Linked DNA regions of Homo sapiens. The protein of the gene in region 2 binds, or shares a complex with, the protein of the main gene of each other region. Links are inferred from orthologs where the notes say so. Each region holds a gene or a part of one and is shown on either strand. Other genes may lie near its edges.

Region 1 (7,752 bases), on a different chromosome or scaffold from region 2:
AAAAAATATTTATCTTTGTCAGCTGTAAAATTACTTAAAATTATAGGACTTTTAAATAGTAATTGAGGGCAAATAAAGTATTTAAACGTTAGAAGTCTTCCTAGTGCTATCAACAAAAGATAGTCATGCACAAATAATTTATAAAAATATGTCAGGTTCATTTCACATAGGGACCAATTATACCCCTTTTTAAGGTCTCCTGTAATGTTTTAGCTACAAGCAGTATGTTCACTCTTTCTCATAAATGAATCCTTACATTTTAGAGCATGTACTACTTTTTGCAATCAGTTCTGACCTTTAGAGAAGTTGGAATGAGATATACAGTGTGAAAATGAATTAGTGTTCTTTTAAATCTTGATAATGGGAACTGCATGCTTTCTCAAGAAGCACATACACTACCATTATCTCAAAAGCTTAAGGATCATTGGTAATTAAAATATCCTTTTGCGTGTATAAACTCTGCTTTGCTGAATTAAAGATGCTGTGTTAAAAAGTTGAGACCCGGGGGAAAATACCAAACAAAACCAGAATGAACATTAATTTATATTAAAATAATTCAATTATATATTTTAGAACATAAAAGTTTCTCAGACTTATGTTTCAATCTGTAATGATTAACAAACACTTTTAAGAACACTCTATAATATATGAAGTTCAAGCATACCATAGGTCATCTGTAATTCAGAAATTATTCAGATTTTAAAAGTCAGTTTACACAGTCGGAAAATATAAAAATTTAATATATTAAGAGAAAATATTTCAAAAAAGATCTACAGGGCACAACTTTGATGCAGTGTAACAAGTAAATGAAACAAAATTCAGAAGGCCAAGCAGTTAAAATAGGGGATTACAAGGATAGCAGATGATATATGTCCATTAATTAGTCTAAGATTCAGCCAACTTATATGTCTAATGCACAACACATAATGCATGAAATACAGGTCTACCAACAAGCAAAAATACCAACTCACTTAATATTTGAAGTACTCATTTAAGTATCACATAAAAGTACTTAATGTATAATTCTACTGATAAATTACAGTTTCCATTTATTCATCTATAGCAAAATACCAATCCCTACTAGTCTCATTAAGAAATGTCAAAATATCCAATTTATATTTAAATTTCCTCTGTTAATTGATATTTTATAAACGAGTAGCAAAATTCTTCCAAGTCTAAGTTATAAATCTCAGAACTCACTGAAGGATTTGTGAGTTAACTTGTTTTGTTGTTTTTTATTGTTTGGGGTTTTTTAAAATCTTATTTTGTTATAAGCATTAATCTTAAGGCTTTTTCATACATGAAAGATACATGAATCATATAGTAAACCAAATTCTAAAGATACATTTCACTTAATCTTCAGCCTCCAAAAATATGCATCCTTATATCTACATATAGAGTTTGTATCTTTTAGTTAAAACACAGATTTCTGTATTTAAATATTTTTACAAAAAAATCAAAATATCTGAAGTTTAAAGAAGTCTTCCAGAAATATTAAATGATACAACAAATATTGAAAATGAGCATATTTTTAAGGCAAATATAACTATAATTTATCCACCTGTATAATAAAGAATTTCAAGTTTATTCACCCATCCTCCATAATTCATACAGGTAAGCCAAAGCAATAACTATACCAATCACTACTCGGAAGCCATCTTTGGAAACATTCCACATAGAATTCCAGTTTATGTCTCTCTGATGTGGAAAGAGAAAAGTCATTCTTCCCTGACCCAAGTCACAGAAAAAAGAGTAACATTTTAAAGGCGTAATTCCAGCAAGTGTGACAAAGGAATTTGTAATTTTCATGTTTCTATTTAAACATGAAATGTTTCAAATTTCCAACTGGCTTGTAGTTCAGAAGTTGATGCATGACCTTTTACTTGCTACAACTACCAGAAAAACAGCTCTGATGAACTTTCTGAATACGGTAGTTTAAAAACTAAAAAAAAAAGATCTAGCTGCAAACTATTAATGTATATTTTAATATCACTCTTTAATCCATAATAATTTATGAGAAAATTTTTTGAACTTAAAAATTATATTAATAATGAGCGATCAGAAAACAAATGTCAACTTTTAATGTAGCTGTTTCCTCAAAAACTGAAGGGGGAATGTGGGGATGGTTAATGGATATAAAAAAACAGAATGAATACGATCCAGTATTTCATAGCACAACAGGGTGACCATACTCAATAAATTTAATTGCACATTTTAAAATAACTAAGAGTATAATTGGATATTTGTATCACAAAGGGTAGATGCTTGAGATGATGGGATACCTCATTTACTCTAATGTGACTATTATGCATTGTATGCCTGTATCAATATCTCATATAACCCATAAAAACCTACTATGTACCCATAACAATTAAAAACTAAAAATAAAACTGAACAAGCACCTTGGGAAAATGCAGTACCCTTAAAGACATGTCCATAATTTGAAACTGGGATTTCAATATTGTTTTATATGTTGGCTTTATATTAAATTTCAGACATTTGAAAGTTACAAACCTTAGACAAAACTTTTATTCAGTTTTGTGTTTATTTTTGTCTATTTTTCAAATGTGTATTTATAATTACATAAAAAGTTTACAATATACTTTATGTCCAAATAAAGACAAAAGGCTTATCATACTCAGTCTAAGTTCCATATGTGGCGAATGGTCATTTGCATACTTTATTCCTAAAATTCTTTTCACTGTCACACAGCAAAACATCAACACTTGATAAATTCAAATTATAAATATAACCTTACTGAATGTTACAAATTGGATGCAATAGCTAAGTCTCTTCAAGTACACAGTAACAGTTCTACAGTCCACAGCATGGAGGATGAGGGTAAAGATTAGTAAGTACACTAATAAATTGAGGTCTTTAAAATTAAAACTATTTTTCAGTGGTGTTGCTGCATTTAGTTACAAAAACACTTGGTTACACAAATGTACCTTAGGATTCTGAAAACCGTAACAAAAAGCTTTTGATATAGTAGTCCCTCTTGAGTAGAAACTAGACGCACTCGGTATCTAAGAAAAGTATACGAAATGGCACAGGTGTAAGCCTAGACACTGCTGGTAGTTATCACGCTGGAGGCAAATACTATACAGTCCACATCTGCAACCTAATTTTGCTTCAGCATCCCCAGAGACTTCGAAAATATTTCTTTGGGTAGGTTGCAAAACAGTGCTTCCTCTTTTATTCTCATCACCCCCATTACGATACAAAGCAACAGACAAGAAAAATCAAACTGCCAACTGTAAGGGCTTAAACACACACACAAAGCATCTTCTTTCTAGCTCCCGAATCGGTATTTATTCCACCTGTTTGTAAATCCATAATTCCACAATAACACAAACTGCCTGCTTAAAGAAAGGAAGGAAGAAAAGAAAAAGAAAGAAAAGAAATAAAGAGAAAGGCAAGTTAATGCTTTGGAGTCATTACTCTTCCACCTAGGCATGGGGGGAGGGGGATGGTACAAAAACAATGGATATTGAGGTGCTGGGGGAAAAATCGTCTTGCCCCAAAGCCTCTTGTGTTATGAGCCTGGGGAAGTCGGGGAAGAGTGAGACTACTTTTCCTCTCTCCCTAAAAGCTGTGCTATCACGGGGAGAGGTTGCCATCGGGCATGTTCTACGAGGCGGTCTCGAAGGGCTACAACTCGCTTCGCTAGGCAACACACCCAGAGCCGATCCAGCACTCTTCACTCAAGGGTTTTTAGGGAGAGGAGAACGGGAGAGCAAGGTGGACTCCAGGGAGGGGGCGAGAAGAGACCCCACCCTGTATGACCGCCGCTGCGCCCGGGCCCTCGCCAACGATTTACACGACTCGGGGCGCCCTGCGGACTGGGCCCGGGGGCCCAGGGAGCCGAGAGGAGAGAGACTGTCCGCCGGGGGCCCCCGGCCCGCGCCCTCGCGCCGGCTCGCCGTCGCCCAGGCGCTGTCCGGGCCGCCCGCCGCCGCCGCCGCAGGCCCGGCCCCGGCCGCTGTCACACCCGACCGCCTTCCTCTCCGCGCCGGGCTGCAGGCTCCCACGCGAGCCGGCTCCAAGGGCCCCGCACTCCCGGAGACAGCAACCAGGAAAGCGGCGGCGGCGGCGCCTCCCAGGGCCCCGGCCCCTCGGGCCTCGCCCCGGCGCTGCCGGCTCGCGCCTGTCAGGGCGCACGGGGCCTCCCCCTACCGACAGCCAGCCCGACTGCCCGACGGACAGGAAGGCAGGCAGGAAGAACCGACCAACAGACACCCTCCGCCTCATCGGCCCCGAGTTACCGTCAGGAGCCCCGACTCCGCCATCCTCCTCGCTCGCCCTCCTTCCTCCTCTTCCTCCTCCTCCTAAGAAGCGACGCTGCCCAACCGCCGCCCCCCGCCCGCCCCTCCCCCACTCGCCCCGCCCCGCCCGCCCCGCCACTACTCTCGCTCCAGCCTCCCCGCCCCACCCCTCTGCCGTGGGCCCGTCACTCGCTAGGCAAGAAAAATGGGCGGAACCGGGGCAAGAGAAGCTGCCCAATCAGAGACGGGCAGTGCCGCCAGCTTCTCTCTCTCCGCCCTTGTCCTTTCCTCAGTTCCTCTACGCCGTCTCCCGCCCACTGGGCGCCTCTGGCTAGCCGGGCTACAGAGTAAGCCTCCAGCAGGGTAGAGTGACAACTCCCCGATCGGAAGTTACTGTTGAAGCTAAGGCGGCCATAACTGATAATGGCAAAAGGAGATTCCTGGCTTCCTGTTTCCAGGGTGACGTAGATTTTTTTCCTTCGCCAGTCTCACCGTTACCCGGGGCAACAGCTGAGCCGTCTGGGAAGGGATGCATCTGTAAGTAAGCCCAAAGAGGTACCGTGGGTGACCACACATCCCATGTTAGACAAGTTAATTCATACTCCGGATTACACGTCCAGTTTCCTGGCCCTTATTTTACTGAGACGTCTGGTCACTTACGGAGATGGACAACAGTTTAGGGCTCCGAAATTCCCTCTCCTGCCCGGAAGTTGCATTTGGCACTTCCGAATTGGGTCATGGCGGAAGGGTGTTAATAGCCTGGCCGCCCGTGCCCCAGGGAATGCTTATTTTTGACCTTAGTTGCAAAGTGAGGTGAGTCCGTGGACCCCAACCAGTGGGCCGGACCCGGGCCGGACGGTCCCTGTGGGACAGAGCGCTGAAATGGCGAGCGGGGCTCAGGGCCGCTTCCGTTGGAAGGCGGTTTTTTTCCGGGCTGGCCTGGCGGCGGCCCGCCCCCGTGAGGCTCCCTGTGGGGTGAGGCCGCTCTACAGGCCGCCCTAACCCAGCCAGAGGCAGCCCGGCCGGGAGGACCCCAGCGGGGAATGGGCGGGGACCTCGGGGCGGAGCTCCTAACTCCGGCAAAACGGAGCTCTTGACCACGCCTCCGCAAGTTCCTATTAAGTACTTTCACTCCTTGGCCTTTGGAGGGAGGAGAATTCGGGAACTTCAGAAAATCATTTTCCACCTTCACCTATAAAAGGAAAAGATGAGCCCCTACCACCAGGGCAGGACCTCAATCTTTTTCCCCTGCCACCTGCCTTCCCATTCTGATTTTTCCCCCCTTTCCGCGTCTCTCCTTTGAGTCTTTGTAAGCTTTGACTGCGGTTCTGGTGGTGGGATTCCTGCAGGTCTACAGTTTCTTAAACAACGTGTTGAAGATTTTTGAAAATACTGTATTGCTTTTATATGGCCCTTTACAAAGTTATCATACATTATCTTGTAGTTTCTTCTGTATGCTTGAGTCAAGAACTCTAAGTCATCTTGGTAATACCGGGTTGGATGCTTAAAGCTGCAGCAAAAAGACCAGAACTTTCAGGTAAAATTGAAAATGGTTAATATCCAGCCAGTCAACAATACAGATGCAAACCTACCTTCTCGACTTAATTTCTGCTTCCTTAGTACTTACACGCCAGCCAAAATGAACTACTCTTGTTTCTTTGCTGTTAATTACTGAAATCTGTTGTAGCAGTCACCTTTTGTGATTCTGTATCTGATTCTGTTACCCGTGGAGATGTGTTTCCAGATTCTTCCCAGCAGGAAGTAATTTCCTCTGAGTTTAGCATTTTTTGTACATCTTTTATGACAATCAGTATGTTATATATATATAATAGCGCTTATGTTTTTAGCTTCACTACCATGTCTGCACCTAAATAGAATGGTTTGTATCAGATTCGTCTTCCCGTCATTTTCACCATGCACATGATATTATTTTGGTAAATACTTACTGAAAGTTTGAATATATCGGGTGTCTCTTGGATGCCCAAGACACTTCCAGCCAAGTTTTAGAGACCTTCAATTTATCAGAAATTCAGCTGAGCGCCTGCTACTCAATCTTTGTTTTACGTTTCCCCTGTGAAGTCTTTCTGACATGATTTTTTTCCCCAGTGTTTTATTATGAAAGTGTTCATATATTTAAAAGCTGAAAGAAATAATTTAATGAATATTCATGTACCCATCATCTATATGCAGCAGTTAACATTTTGCCATTTTTTTTCATTCCTCCCCACTTTTTCATTGTCATAAAAAGTTGCAGACACTTATTGTTAGGCAAGACACCCTTAAGATTTCCAGCATGAATTTCCTAAGAATTTTGAAGTTCTCCAGCAAAACACAATATCATTATTTCAGCTGTTTTGTAACTTTTAAAATCTAGGCCAAGTGCTAATTTTCCTAATTTACCCAGGAATATCTTTTATACCTTCTCCTTCCCAATCCTGCAAAAAAAAAAAAAAAAAAAAAAAATCAGGATCCAGTCAAAATTTTTCTTTAGCTTTAATGTAGTAGAGTTCCCCCATCTTTTTTCCCCCTGTGACATTGGCATTTTGAAGAGTTCAAGGCAGGAGTCTTTTTGGAAATGGGCCCCTCTTTTTTCTTCTTGTAAACCAGAAGTTAGTCTAGAGGCTTAAGCTGAACATTTTTTTTGCAAGGATATGTCACAGTATTCACACTTTTCTAGTCATGACTAAGCCTTCTCAAACGCAGCTATACGCACTTTGCCGTGAGTTGCTGGTTAAATCCATCTCACTTCTTAGCATGCTTACCCCTCTCCAGTGTCCTACAAAGAAGAGGGTAGCATTTAATCCTGTGTGTATAGAGTATGTGTTAGTGCCTTGGGTTGGCAACATTGACTACCTTTAATAAAGTGTTGCTGCTACTTTGCCTATTCTTGGAGCTGATGCAATGACTTTCTGCAGTAAAGTGTACTGATGTCAGCATAGTTTATGAGTGTCAACTCCTGGCACCCTGCAGACATTGTTGAAAGATGTGTGGGCCCTGCAATTCAAATACAGATGAATCTTGATGTTATCAAAGCAAATACCAAGGCAACTGTTGGCCATCTGGTCACATTCCAATTTAGGCAATGTTATTTTTCTCACTGAAATTCTCATGCAAGTCTTAATTGGTCCTGGTGTTTTTATGATAGCTTTTTGGTAGCATTAAGCAGAGCCTATTAAAAATTGCAAAATCAAGATTATACTTAACACTTAGTACACTAGATACGTTCTCTGCCCAATGGATAGAGAAGTGTTTGTGGAATTTACTTCCTAATCACAAAGGGAAAACTCAAGACTGCCAACGTCGTATACTCCTCCTAGCCTAGACTTATATTTGATCATGAAAGATAAGTGAAAGGAAAAAACTGCACATAAGGGAGCAGAAGAAAATGCTCTGGGAGGACAGAATTTTTTAGATTGGTATAGAATGTTTTTAGCCATCATATTGAAAATTACATAGTGCATTCTGTTAGTTGCTTCCTTTGTGTAGA
Region 2 (7,023 bases):
CCAGTCCCATCTATGCTGATGGGCCTGCTGAGTATAGACTCAGGAAAGCTGCCCCACTGCTACAGCCTTTTGGGAATGACTGAATGACTTTCTCTGTGCCATGTTTTCAGGCCATCTTGGCAGCAGGCAGCATGATGCAGACCCACGGGGACTTTGATGTTGCCCTCACCAAATACAGAGTTGTGGCTTGTGCTGTTCCAGAAAGTCCTCCACTCTGGAATAACATTGGAATGTGTTTCTTTGGCAAGAAGAAATATGTGGCGGTGAGTGTCCCCTCATGTTCTTTGTTTGTATTTCTACATGTGGTTATTGGGTCTGTTTAGCTTGCCCTTCTCATTGAGTGCCCCTTCTCTCTCATAGGCCATCAGCTGCCTGAAACGAGCCAACTACTTGGCACCCTTTGATTGGAAGATTCTGTATAATTTGGGCCTTGTCCATTTGACCATGCAGCAGTATGCATCAGCTTTTCATTTTCTCAGTGCGGCCATCAACTTCCAGCCAAAGATGGGGGAGCTCTACATGCTCTTGGCAGGTAAGAAACATTTATGTGGAAAACTCTCTCTGCCATCTGTAATGAGGGAAAAATGGATTAGAATCATAGAAGATCAGTGGCTGTCTCATAGGAGCCATTCCCTTAGAGATCCTGTAGGAATCTGGATTACTGTCCTGGAGCTTGAAGAAATAGAAAAAGATGACAAAGGAACTTGGTTGTTTCTAACTTGGGGGAGTTTGACTCAGAGACCAACAGGTTAAATAAAGATCATCCCTAGTTCACCTTTTACCAGTTTTTTCCTCTTGCCTTGACAATTCATTTATGTATATATTGAGTCCAACTAAGTTCCAGACAGCAAGTGTTAAGAGCTTGGGTTTTAGGTAGGGTCCTGCCTCTACTACTTATTATATGTACCTAGGGCTGATGTGAGGATTGCATGATTAAGCTCTCAATTAATAATACTGGTTTTGTTGAAATACTGATTTTTGAAAACTGTTGGTTTTACTGTGGTTATATAATTGGTCTATTATTATCAATATTGTTGTTACTATAATTGGCCCCTAGGTGATACTTCCAAGTCAAGCTACCTTATGTTGAAACCCTTATCTCTTCTGAGCATGTTATATAGAATGCCATTCTCTTCCTGAAACTCCATTTTATGCCATGCAAATACTAAAATTGATCATAAAAATAAGTTAAAATTAATCAAACACTTTAACAATTATGCACAACCATTTTAAAGTACTGACTAGTCTTTCTAGGAATTTTTTTCTCCATATACATTTACTTACTAAATGTAAGACCCAAAGCAGATTTCCATGTCCTCATTTGGCAGTCGTCTTCCAGTGGCTTTTTGTTCATTACTGTGGGTTCTTATTTAAAAGAGAAAGCTTGCAAAAGCAATTGTGGTTATTTGAGGGTTGCCTGAATACAAAGATAACTTTAAAAAAAAAACATAGGTTTTATTATTATTCAGATATGGTATGGGCAACAGATCAGAAGACATCTGCCACTGGAAAGATAGTCTGTTACAATTCCTGAGAAGGAGGGCATGCTACACCGTGCAGGGCCACATGGGGAAGCACCAGGTCAATCAGGAGGTAGAGGGAGCAAGGGGTAAATGTGGGCACAATTCTTTATTGTAGTTTTCATGGGTAGAAATGCCCTCCCCGGGGCAAGACCGGGAAAGCAGGTTAACCAGGTTGGGGATTGGCCAGTTTGAATAATTTCAGTGGGCTCTGGGCTATAGGGCTGTCTCTAGGTGTCTGGTACCTGACCCTCGGGTGACTAGGACTAGGGAATATTGGCCCAGTGTCAGGGCCCAGTAAAGGAGGCAGTTAAGAATATGAACACTGGGTTGGTCGGTCTGCATACAGAAGGTACTCTTGTAGGGGTTATATCTAGGAATTAGCTGACTGTGGGAGGGACAGTCTCCCCAGGGTCAGTAAGGCCCCAGATGTCAAAACATCAGAATAAAAAGGCTAAAGTGGGGTGTGATGGTACATACCTGTAGTGCTGGCTACTTGGGAGGCTAAGGCAGGAAGTTTGCTTAAGCCCAGGAGTTGGGAGTACAGCCTGGGCAACACAGTGAGACTCCATTCCTCTCTCTTTTTTTAAAAATTTTATTTTAGGTTCAGGGGTACATGTGCATCCTGTTACACAGGCACGTGTGTCATGGGGATTAGTTGTACAGATTATTTCATCACCCAGGTACTAAGCCTAGTACCCAATAGTTATTTTTTTCTGGCCCTCCCCCTCCTCCAGTAAGCTCCAGTGTCTGTTTCCCTCTGTGTCTCCATGTGTTCTCATCATTTAGCTCTTATAGTGAGAACATGCAGGATTTGGTTTTCTATCCTTTATTAATTTGCTAAGGATGGTGGCCTCCAGCTCCATCTATGTTGCTGCAAAGGACACGATCTTGTTCTTTTGTATGGCTGTGTCGTATTCCATGGTGTACATTTACATTTTGTTTATCCAGTCTACCATTGATGGGCATTTAGGTTGATTTCACATCTTTGCTATTGTGAATAGTGCTGCATTGAACACACACATGCATGTGTCTTTATGGCAGAACGATTTACATTCCTTTGGGCATATACCCAGTAATGGGATTGCTGGGTCGAAGGGTAGTTGTATTTTTAGCTCTTTGGGGAATTGCCAGATTGCTTTCCACAATGGTTGAACTAATTTACACTCCCATCAACAGTGTATAAGCATTCCCTTTTCTCTGCAGCCTCACCAGGATGTTATATTTTGAGTTTTTAATAATAGCCATTTTGACTGGTGTGAGATGGTTATCTCACTGTGGTTTCAATTTGCATTTCTCTAATCAGTGATAGAGTTTTTCATATGCTTGTTGGCTGCATACATGACTTCTTTTGAAGTGTCTGTTTATGTCCTTTGCCCATTTTAATGGGATTGTATTCTTCTTGTAAATTTGCTTAAGTTCCTTATAGATCCTGGATATTAGACCTGCATGGTTTGCAAATATTTTCTCCCATTTTGTACATTGTCTGTTTACTGTGTTGATAGTTTCTTTAGATAGCTGGGTTCTAATGGAACACAGAAATGTAAACAGCCATAATGTAAGAGATAACAGCGATGCTAACTTTACAAAGTAGAGATGGCATTCAAACTGGATCCTGAACAACAAGCTAAAATGGAATAGCACAGAATGGCTGAGGAGCCACTGTGAAGAAAGGCATGCAGCCATGAAACTGCAGTGTCCCTTGCTGTTAGTGGGGGTTAGTGTTAGAGAATATGATGGGAGATGAATCAGGAAAGATATTCTGGGGTCAGATTATGGAGGTCATGCGTACAGTGCAAGGACTTTATCTTAGAGGCCATGTTTGTCCAGCTGTCTTCCTAGATCTCCTCTTAGGTGCCTGGTAGGAGTGAGTGCATAGCTGGTGGGGAGGTGGAATGGGCAGGGCTTCCAGAGCAGCTGTTTTTGTTTTATATATTAGGTGTCAAGGAAATACTGATTTTAAAAAGTGGGGGGAGTGTTTTACTGCTAAATGAAAGTGTAAAGATCATGGTTATAGATGTGGGGGGCCAGTGAGGATTCCTAAGTAGGATGGTAATGTGGTCAGATTTGTAAGGCAGTGAGATACCTGGCAGCGCTGTGGAAGGTGGAATGGAGGCAGGTGGGGACTTTGACACTGGGGAATAAATGGAAAGCCTAAAACTACTTGGGCCTGAACAAGGGCAGTGTCAGAAAAGAAACTGCAAAAAAAGGATGCATAGAACCTGGCAACTGATTGACTGTAGAAGAGATGGTTGAAGATAGCACCAGGTATCTAAGCTGACTTAGTAAACTCTGGTGCCATGAGCTGACAGGGTGAAGTTTACTTTGGGGGTAGTCTTTAATACTCCTTTTGTCTTCTAAGCTGAGCTCTCCAGCTGCAGTGCTTTCTTTGTTGCAGTGGCTCTGACCAATCTGGAAGATATAGAAAATGCCAAGAGAGCCTACGCAGAAGCAGTCCACCTGGATAAGTATGCACTTTGTTGAGAATGGTACTGGCGGGGGTTGGACTCTCCAAAGCCATGAGGTGGTGCCATACATAGCATTGGTGCTGCCTGTGTCAGCCCAGCTGTTCCTCTATGGCATTAGTACATAGCAGACCTCAGTGTGGAGGGATGTGTCTCCTAAGTATGTGGTGGCTCAGCAGGAATTGACACTCTGAGAAAATGTTTCCAGTCCTAAACTGAGTAATCAGGAGGCTAGAGAATGTCAGAACTGGCAGTGGGCTTGGGTTGCTGATAGCTATGGGCTAGCTGGAATATCAGATGGGACTCTGGGCTGTTTAATTCAAGATAAAACTTGACTCTTCCAGGATTTACTCCGCTGGCATCTTCTAGACAGCAGGGTAGAGATCCCTTTTTCAACCCTGGCCTAGGTAGTCTCTGTTGAGGGCTGAGATGCCAGATTTGGTCCCAATACCAGCTTTGCTTGTTAGGCCATTAACTCCTTGATTCTTCTCCACAGGTCTGCTTAGCACGTATGTACCTACCTTGCTGCATAATGGAGAAATCTCTACTTAACCAGTTTTGTTTTGTTTTTGTGTAATGAGAAGGATCTCTAAATGACCATTTGTTGCAGAGCCCCCAGCTCCATAGAATCTCTGTCTGCCACAGGTGTAACCCTTTAGTAAACCTGAACTATGCTGTGCTGCTGTACAACCAGGGCGAGAAGAAGAACGCCCTGGCCCAATATCAGGAGATGGAGAAGAAAGTCAGCCTACTCAAGGACAATAGCTCTCTGGAATTTGACTCTGAGGTATGTCTTTTATTAGCTCCCAAGAGTCATAAGTAAGCTCTCAGGAGACTTTTAAAAATCAAGCCCAGATCATCCAAATCCAAGGTATTACACGTTCATGGCTGTTCTGGCTTTGATGTTCCTAGCAGCATGAGTTCATCAATTAATAACAGCCTGAGAAAAACTTTCCTAGAATAATAATAAAAGGAAATTCAGGCTTACTGAGTTGTTATTGCTAATTCAACTCATCAAAGTTGAGGTCTGTGTCTGTCTGTAGCTTCCTTCTATTTCACTTTTTTTTTTTTTTTTTTTTTGAGACGGAATCTCGCTCTGTTGCCCAGGCTGGAGTGCAATGGCGCAATCTCAGTTCACTGCAACCTCCGCCTCCTGGGTTCAAGCAATTCTCCTGCCTCAGCCTTCCAAGTAGCTGGGACTACAGGCGCGTGCCACCACGCCCAGCTAATTTTTGTATTTTTAGTAGAGACGGGGTTTCACCATGTTGGCCAGGATGGTCTTGATCTCTTGACCTCGTGATCCACGTGCCCAGCCCTATTTCACTTGTTGTAGGAAATGCACTGTTTGGCCCGGTAATGCACCAGGCTTGAATTGTTGGGTTTTGAGATCCTATGTGAACCACCATGCCATCCAGTAAAGGCAATCTGTAATCTCTACTGTTTGATAAGTACTTCCTGCCTCAACTGCTAGTACGACCAGACACTATTTCAGCTAAAACCCCAGCTCGAAGACCAAAGAAGTGGGTTGGCTTGTCTCTGACAGTCACGCTTTTGATTCTTTTACTTCCTTTGTGGACACAAGATGGTGGAGATGGCTCAGAAGTTGGGAGCTGCTCTCCAGGTTGGGGAGGCACTGGTCTGGACCAAACCAGTTAAAGATCCCAAATCAAAGCACCAGACCACTTCAACCAGCAAACCTGCCAGTTTCCAGCAGCCTCTGGGCTCTAATCAAGCTCTAGGACAGGCAATGTCTTCAGCAGCTGCATACAGGACGCTCCCCTCAGGTAGGACCATACAGAGCTCCATGAAGACCTGGCAGGTACAAGCCACATGTGTCTGTCAGCAGAGATTATAGCTTTCAGTGAGGTTCTCTTCAGACTCATATGTCCAACGTAGTATTGGCCACAAGGGGAGAAAAAAAACACAGGGTGGCTAAATTGGCACTTGTTTCCTTAAGGCGAGCTATGTAGTAGGTAACAGCTACTCACAGACTTAGTTGGATGGTCTATACACTGGTCTTTCCAATTTTAGCAATATGTTATTAAGTATATCCTGTTATGCAATGTTTAATTTTTACTGCTTTATCAGAAGTTGACACGTAAATATTTTTCAGTGACTCATTGAAGGCAAACTTGACTGTTGCTTTATTTCTCAGTTATAGTCTTCCCTTATAGTTAATGGGTCAGTCCCACTGGTTCCAGAAAATATGGGGTTTCCTCTTGAACTCTAACAGCAAAAAAGAATGATTTCTTCTGAAATTGTGGAACATGAGGATTCAAGTTTTTATTTTGTTACTAGGTGCTGGAGGAACATCCCAGTTCACAAAGCCCCCATCTCTTCCTCTGGAGCCAGAGCCTGCGGTGGAATCAAGTCCAACTGAAACATCAGAACAAATAAGAGAGAAATAAGAATAGAATGAATGACCCCAAAATAGGGTTTTCTTGGGCGAGGATGTGCTGGATTAGGAAAGGTGACATGACACAGGCAGAGCAGAGTGGCACCCACCACAGAATACAGTGTGTGTTATTACGAGGAGCCAGCAGTTGAGCCTAAGGTCCTTCTACCTACCTGGTATTGGCATTTGAGGTCGGAAACCCTCTACTGCCCCATAAGCCAGGAAAAGTGAAAAGAGAACACAGTTCCTTTAAGAACTGGCAGCAAGGCTTGAGGCCTTATGTATGTAGCTGAGTCAGCAAGGTACATGATGCTGTCTGCTTTCAAAAGGACTTTTCTCTCCTAGCTGACTGACTCCTTCCTTAGTTCAAGGAACAGCTGAGACAGACCTCTGCTGAGTAGCTCTGTGATGACAAAGCCTTGGTTTAACTGAGGTGATCCTCAGGTTGTGAGGTTTATTAGTCCCCAAGGCAAACACAAATATTAGATTAATAATCCAACTTTAATAGTATACATTTAAAAGAAAAAAAACAAAAGCCCTGGAAGTTGAGGCCAAGCCTGCTGAGTATTGCAGCTGCATTTGCCCAAAGGGAATCCAGAACAAGTCCCTCCCTGTATTTTGTTCTTGAGAGGGGTCAGTCTAG

What was found. Proteins that work in one complex are often made in the same cells at the same time.
Region 1: the proteins of BBS4 (region 2) and BBIP1 are in contact, whole or in part, in a cryo-EM structure (PDB 6VBV), measured with the Bos taurus proteins. The link is inferred for Homo sapiens from one-to-one orthologs. Residues at the interface, in NP_001069424.1 of Bos taurus: Leu210, Leu213, Tyr236, Leu240, Ala241, Ser244, Gln247, Thr248, Ser269, Pro271, Asn274, Asn275, Met278, Phe281, Gly282, Lys284, Tyr298, Leu299, Pro301, Leu302, Asp303, Trp304, Lys305, Ile306, Tyr308, Asn309, Leu312, Leu315, Thr316, Gln318; in XP_003587939.1 of Bos taurus: Met7, Phe8, Arg9, Glu10, Val11, Leu12, Pro13, Lys14, Gln15, Gly16, Gln17, Leu18, Tyr19, Val20, Glu21, Asp22, Leu28, Lys30, Pro31.

The regions. Positions count from the first base shown.
Region 1 is NC_000010.11:110,916,171-110,923,922, reverse strand, and holds the start of BBIP1 (BBSome-interacting protein 1), read left to right. Parts: upstream 1-4,742; 5' UTR 4,743-4,802; exon of another isoform or gene 4,803-5,387; intron 5,388-5,709; 5' UTR 5,710-5,765; coding exon 5,766-5,802; intron 5,803-7,752.
Region 2 is NC_000015.10:72,731,195-72,738,217, forward strand, and holds part of BBS4 (BBSome complex member BBS4), read left to right. Parts: intron 1-110; coding exon 111-263; intron 264-360; coding exon 361-532; intron 533-3,918; coding exon 3,919-3,988; intron 3,989-4,630; coding exon 4,631-4,772; intron 4,773-5,567; coding exon 5,568-5,769; intron 5,770-6,283; coding exon 6,284-6,393; 3' UTR 6,394-7,023.